Homo sapiens: one gene and its partner. The protein of the gene in region 1 purifies or fractionates together with the protein of each later gene. This does not show direct contact. Each region holds a gene or a part of one and is shown in the gene's direction. Other genes may lie near its edges.

Region 1 (3,500 bases):
AAAAAAAAAAAAAAAAAAAAGGTAATAAAAGGTCCAGTCATATTTTTATTTTTTCAGACAGAGTTTCACTATTGTTGCCCAGGCTGGAGTGCAATGGCTCGATCTCAGCTCACTGCAACCACTGCCTCCCGGGTTCAAGCGATTCTCCTGCCTCAGCCTCCCAAGTAGCTGGGATTACAGGTGCCCACTACCACGCTTGACTTTTTTTTTATTTTTTAGTAGAGACAGGGTTTCGCTATGTTGGCCATGTTGGTCTTGAACTCCTGACCTCAGGCGATCTGCCCGCCTTGGACTCCCAAAGTGCTCGGATTACAGGCGTGAGCCACCGTGCCTGGCTGAGGTCTTTTTTTTTTTACTCTGAGTGAGGTGACAAGCTTTGGGAAGGTTTTGAGCAGAAGAGTGGCATAGTCTGATGAAATCTGGCTTACTTTGACCTCTGTATTGAGAATGAATGACGGCTTTGGAGGTAGTGAAAAATGGTTATAAAGGATCCTGGATATATTTTGAGGAATGAGCCAGTGGGATTTTTTGGATAGATTGGTTGTGAGGGAGGCCATCAAAGATGATTCTCAGATTTGTGATGTAAAGAATGGACAACAGGCCTTGCGTGGTTGCTCACACCTATAATCCCAGCACTTTGGGAGGTCGGTGAGGGTGGATCACCAGAGGTCAGGAGTCTGAAACCAGCTTGGCCAACATGGTGAAACCCCATTTCTACTAAAAATAAAAAATTAGCCGGGCGTGGTGGCAGGCACCTGTAATCCCAGCTACTCAGGAGGCTGAGACGGGAATCGCTTGAACCCGGGAGGCGGAGGTTGCAGTGAGGCAAGATTGCGCCACTGCAGTCCAGCGTGGGCAACAGAGCGAGACTCTGTCTCAAAAAAAAAAAAAAAAAAAAAAAAAGAATGGGCAAATGGTTACCATTTACCGAGAGGGACGAGACTGAGGAGAAATGTAACAGAGCTCATCTTTGGGTGTGCTAAGTTTGAGATAGCGATTAGACATCCAAATAGAATTCAGAGAGGTCTGGGTTAGAGATGTAAATTTGTCTCATTTAGTGAATATAAATAGGAAAAGAAGAAGAGGTCTGAAAAGTAAACCCGAGGCTTTCCTATTTAGAGATGGTGGTAGGGACTTTTGATATTTACTGTGCCTGGGCTTGAGAAAATAAGCCTTGGAGTGTTTTTGAACAGAGGAATAATGTAATCTGATTCATATTTTAAAAGGATCACTGTAGCTGCTGAGTGAGGCCTGGAATGTAAAGGGCAGAAGGTGCAGCAAGGAGACCATTTAGGAGGCCAGCTATTGCAGTTGACTAAGCTAGAGATTGGTGGGTTGGACAGGGATGATAATGGTAGAGGTGATAAGAAGTGATCTGATTCTAGATTGGTTAATTTTTATTTAGCTTTTATTCTATCTTATTTATTAATTTTTTTGAGACAAAGTCTCACTCTGTCTCAAGCTGGAGTGCAGTGGTGCAATCTTGGCTCATTGCTACCTCCGCCTCCCAGATTCAAGTGATTCTCGTGCCTCAGCCTCCTGAGAAGCTGGGATTACAGGCGTGCACCACCACACCTGTCTAATTTTTGTATTTTTTTTAGCAGAAATAGAGTTTCTCCATGTTGGCCAGGCTGGTCTCTTAACTCCTGGCCTCAGTCTCCCAAAGTGCTGGGATTACAGGTGTGAGCCACCATGCCTGGCCTCATTTTAAAATTTTCTGTAGAGATGAAAATTTTGCTATGTTACCCAGGCTGGCTTTGAACTCCTGGCCTCAAGTGATCCTCTTACCTCAGCCTTCCAAAGTGCTGGGATTATAGGCATGAGCTACTGCACCAGGCCTGATTCTAGATAATATTTAAAAGGTAGAATTGGCAAACTTTGCTCATTGGTTGGATGGAAGGTGCGGATAGTAGTAGTGTGTATTCCATATTTGCATAAAAGTTCTGTTGATGACTCCTCTTCAAGGATGTATTGTGTTTACATAATGTTTTGTGAGGTTTTTATATATTTTTTAAAGACATGGGATCTCACTATGTTGCCCTGGCTGGTCTCAAACCCTTGGGCTTAAGTGATCCTTTCACCTCGGCCTCCCAAATAGCCGGGACTACAGGTGTGTGCTTCTGCAACTGGTGTATTTACATAATGGCTGGGCAAGGGAAGATGGCTGAGAGTCAGGTAGCAGTCAGTGTTGAAATAACGTGAGTGCCAGGCACACTGCTAGATACAGTGGGGATAGAGAAAAGTGGTTTTTTTGTGTTTTGTTTTGAGACTTCTCTCTAAAAGACAGTAAATAGAGATTTTAAAATTTGAAAGTAAAATGAATTAAACCCTTAATATGTTTTATTTTTAATTAGGTCCAAACTAAATGACATGATAGATGCTATTCCAAAAAGTAAGAAGAATAAGAGATGTCAGTTGCACTCCTTAGATACGCACAAGCCAAAACCTTTGGGGTAAGTAGAATTGAATACCAAGAGGCTTTGTCATTGTTAAGATTATATATTTGATCATATTTAGTAAAAGAAATAAACCCACTGTTTGCTTTAATTCATTAATTGGTTATACTCTATGACATAGGTCAAAATAAATAGATCCTCTTGTTATGTTGGCCATTTTGCCTTGATATATATAAAGTCTCAATGTAGATCTGATTTAAAAAAATTTTTTTATGTTAAATATGTTTTAGAGGAGGGAGGTTGAAGTCTTTTTTTTTTTCTTTTTTTGAGACGGAGTCTCCCTTTATTTCCCAGGCTGGAGTGCAGTGGCACAATCTCAGCTCACTGCAACCTCCACCTCCCTGGTTCAAATGATTCTCCTGCCTCAGCTTCCTGAGTAGCTGGGACTACAGGTGCGTGCCACCACACCTGGCTAATTTTTGTATTTTTAGTAGATATGGGGTTTCACCCTATTGGCCAGGCTGGTCTCGGACTCCTGACCTCAGGTGATCGCCCACCTCAGCCTCCAAAGTGCTGGGATTACAGGTGTGAGGCACCACACTCGGCCGGTTGAAGTCTTTATGGAAATGTATGCAGCTAATATGAACGTTTTCAAAGTAGTGGTAATCATTATTTGATCTACAGAATAGTCATAATGTATAAATTATTTATCTTTCTTGTCTCTAGCTGTAATTTACCAAGGTTTTAAAAAAAGTAGTTATGACGATATTATGACAATATGTATTTATGTAACTAATTTGTAGTTTTCTATATTTATTATTATTTTTTGAGATGGAGTCTCCTCTGTCGCCCAGGCTGGAGTGCAGTGGCGTCATCTCGGCTCACTGCAACCTCTGCCTCCTGGGTTCAAGCTGTTCTCCTGCCCCAGCCTCCCGAGTAGTTGGGACTACAGGTGCGTGCCACCAAGCCCGGCTAATTTTTTGTATTTTTGGTAGAGACAGGGTTTCACCGTGTTAGCCAGGATGGTCTCGATCTCCTGACCTCATGATCCGCCCACCTCGGCCTCCCAAAGTGCTGAGATTACAGGCGTGAGCCACCGCGCCC
Region 2 (3,500 bases), on another chromosome or scaffold:
TTTGAGGAAGAGAGGGCCGGGCGTGGTGGCTCACGCCTGTAATCCCAGCACTTGCGGAGGCCAAGGCAGGCGGATCACCTGAGGTCAGGAGTTTGAGACCAGCCTGGCCAACATGGTGAAACCCTGTCTCTATTCAAAATTCAAAAATTAGCCGGGTGTGGTGGTGCACGTCTGTAATCCCAGCTACTCGGGGGAGGCTGAGACAGGAGAATCGCTTGAACCCAGGAGGCAGAGGTTGCAGTGAGCTGAGATTGAGCCACTGCACTCCAGCTTGGGTGACAGAGTGAGACTCTGTCTCAAAAAAAAAAAAAAAGAAAAGGAAGTTTAAGGAAGAGGTTGTCAATAGTGTCAATGTGAAATTGGAATTTATAAGAATTGGGGAGTAGGCATAGGGAAATATTAATTAAATATTTTATAGTGAATTATTGATATTATTCTCTTGAGTTATTTAGACAGTATTTGCTATTTTGGGGACATGTTCCTTCCCCATTTAATCTTCTTTTCCTTTCTTTTCTTTGTTTCTTTTTTTTTTTTTGAGACAGGGTCTCACTTTGTCACCCAGGCTGGAGTGCAGTGGTGTGATTTTGGCTCACTGCATCCTCTGCCTCCTGGGCTCAAGCATTCCTTCTGCCTCAGCCTCCCAAGTAGCTGGGATTACAAGCGTGCACTGCCACGCCCAGCTAATTTTTTGTATTTTTACTAGAGTTGGGGTTTCGCCATGTTGCCCAGGCTAGTCTTGAACTCCGAGTTCAGGCGATTTGCCCACCTTGCCTTCCCAAAGTGCTGGGATTGCAGGGGTGAGCCACCGCGCCCGGCCCCTTCATTGAATCTTACGTTTTGGTCTTATAAGTGCCTTAAAGTATTTTATAATACGAGCAGATAGGAAAAACATTGGGAATGCCTCAGTTTTATTGTGAATGCATGGGATACTGGAAACAAATAGTTCTCTGTTTTTAAATCTGCGCTCTGCAGCTCACTGAAACGGTAGAGTGCCAGCGAATGGTAAACGAACAGGTGGTGAGGGGACTGGATCCTTGATCTCTCTTTGGGCCTCTTGCACTAACTCGCGGTTGAAATCCCTGAGAAGGACTAGGTGACCTTTAAGGGTCTTCCTAAATGCTGACATTCTATGCCTCTGGAGTTGATTTTTCTCAGGTTAGCTGAAGCATAGGTCCCAGCCTTCCACTGCTTTGGGTAGTTTGACTAAAGTAGAGAAGGGATTTTTTAAAAACATACTAGCCAGGCAGGCGTAGTGACTCGAACCTGTAACCCCAGCTACTCGGAAGACTGAGATGGGAGTATCACTTGAGCCAAGGAGTTCAAGGCTGCAGTGCGCTACGATTGTGCCACTGCACTGCAGTCTGGGTGACAGAGTGAGACGTTGTCTAAAAAAAATTTAAAATACACAAACTAAAAGTTTAAAATTGTTTATGAGAAATTGTTATTGTTTGTATAGAAGAGCTATTTTCATACCCTCTTTATTTTGGAAGTGTAAACCTTTGTATTTACTGAAGAGTCAACTAACTTGTCTTATTGATAGCTTCTCTTCATAAATTCTAGTAGTTGAACCTAGATGCTATCTAAGGGATTATTTGATTTGGTAAAATGAGATTGGTGATTTTTTTATTGTGTAAGTCATATCCAGCAAGTAGGCTGAGGATCTAAGGTAGTTTGTGTTTACTAAAATTTTTCATAAACTTTAGAGCTGCTAGGATTAAAGTTTCTGTTTTATGTAAAATATAATTCTTTTTGATGACAGCATTGCCCATATGAAAACTGTACATCTCAACTTTTTGGTATAAAAATATCAAATATAAACAAAAGTAGAGAAAATAGTTTGATGAACTTCCTTATACCCATCACCAAGCTTTGCCAATGATTAATTTATGGCCAGTCTAGTTTCATGTTTCTATTGCACACTCTCCCACTCCATCTCTGGATATTTCAAAGCAATTCCCAGATACCATTATTTTATCCATAAACGTTTCAGTATTATCTGTAAGATATAAGGATTTTTCTTTTTTGTATCTTTTGATGTTTTAAGAAGTCTGTTTGAGGAAATACTACAATTTAAAATTTTGGTCAGTGATGAAACGGTTGGCATTTATTTTTTAATGTTATTTATTCTGTTAGTATTCCATCCTGAAACTTCAGCCATTATTTGGAAATACTTGTGTTATTTTAAAATATATAACTTCGTTATTTAAAAACATACAGCGTGAAGTTTGGGTAATTTTTAATATTTAAGAAAAATAAAATTGTTATTTATTTGGTCTGTTTTTCATCTTTTTAGATACGTGCTTTTCAACATGCCTTCAGCACTAATGACTGCTCCAGGAATGTCTACATTAAGAAGAATGGCTTTACTTTACATCGAAACCCCATTGCTCAGAGCACTGATGGTGCAAGGACCAAGATTGGTTTCAGTGAGGGCCGCCATGCATGGGAAGTGTGGTGGGAGGGCCCTCTGGGCACTGTGGCAGTGATTGGAATTGCCACAAAACGGGCCCCCATGCAGTGCCAAGGTTATGTGGCATTGCTGGGCAGTGATGACCAGAGCTGGGGCTGGAATCTGGTGGACAATAATCTACTACATAATGGAGAAGTCAATGGCAGTTTTCCACAGTGCAACAACGCACCAAAATATCAGGTGAGAAACTGGGGTTTTTCTCAAGTATGGGCCTTTGTCAAATCACGCCTTAATTTGTTTTAAATTTACAAATTTTTATATAGCAGTTTTTGTCTTTTTGGTAATTTTTATTTTTATTATTTTTTTATTTTTTCAGATACCCAGACTTCAAGGAGATTTTTTTTTTTTAATGTTAGGGGGTTATAGTTAATTTTGTTGGGTGTTATATTTTGATTTTGGCTATGCAGAAAAATATTCTTTTTTTTTTTTTAGACAGAATCTCACTCCGTTGCCCAGGCTAGAGTGCAGTGGCGCCAACTCGGCTCACTGCAACCTGCACCTCCCAGGTTCAAGCAATTCTCTGCCTCAGCCTCAGTAGTTGGGATTACAGGCGCCCACCACCATGCCTGGCTAATTTTTGTATTTTTAGTAGAGACAGGGTTTCACCATCTTGGCCAGGCTGGTCTTGAACTCCTAACCTCGTGATTCACCTGCCTTGGCCTCCCAAAGTGCTGGGATTACAGGCGTGAGCCACCATGCCCAGCCTCAAGGAGATTTTTTGACCATTTTTAAATAAATGTATAAATGATCTATCTCAATATTTGTTTCCTAATACAACTTTAAGCAGCCTATTTTTGCTCCAGATCAGGGGTTGGCAAACTTTTTGTAAGGGCCACGTAGTAAATCTTTAAGTCTTTGCAGTCCATATGGTCTCTGTCACAACTTTTTTTTTTTAATGTCATTTTCAAGGTAAGGATCTATCACGAGTTTCAACTCTATTTATAGTACAAAAGCAGTCATCGATAATACGTAAATGAACGAACATGGCTGTATTCCATAGACCTTATTTATGGGCTGCAGGACAGATTTG

The links. Proteins that work in one complex are often made in the same cells at the same time.
Region 2: the proteins of GGNBP2 (region 1) and FBXO45 purify together in Homo sapiens (affinity purification with western blotting, with the first as the bait; one study listed by BioGRID). This does not show direct contact.

Annotation. Positions count from the first base shown.
Region 1 is NC_000017.11:36,558,419-36,561,918, forward strand, and holds part of GGNBP2 (gametogenetin-binding protein 2), read left to right. Parts: intron 1-2,354; coding exon 2,355-2,453; intron 2,454-3,500. UniProt on the Homo sapiens protein: May be involved in spermatogenesis.
Region 2 is NC_000003.12:196,575,160-196,578,659, forward strand, and holds part of FBXO45 (F-box/SPRY domain-containing protein 1), read left to right. Parts: intron 1-2,293; coding exon 2,294-2,650; intron 2,651-3,500. UniProt on the Homo sapiens protein: Component of E3 ubiquitin ligase complex consisting of FBXO45, MYCBP2 and SKP1. Functions in substrate recognition but also plays an important role in assembly of the complex.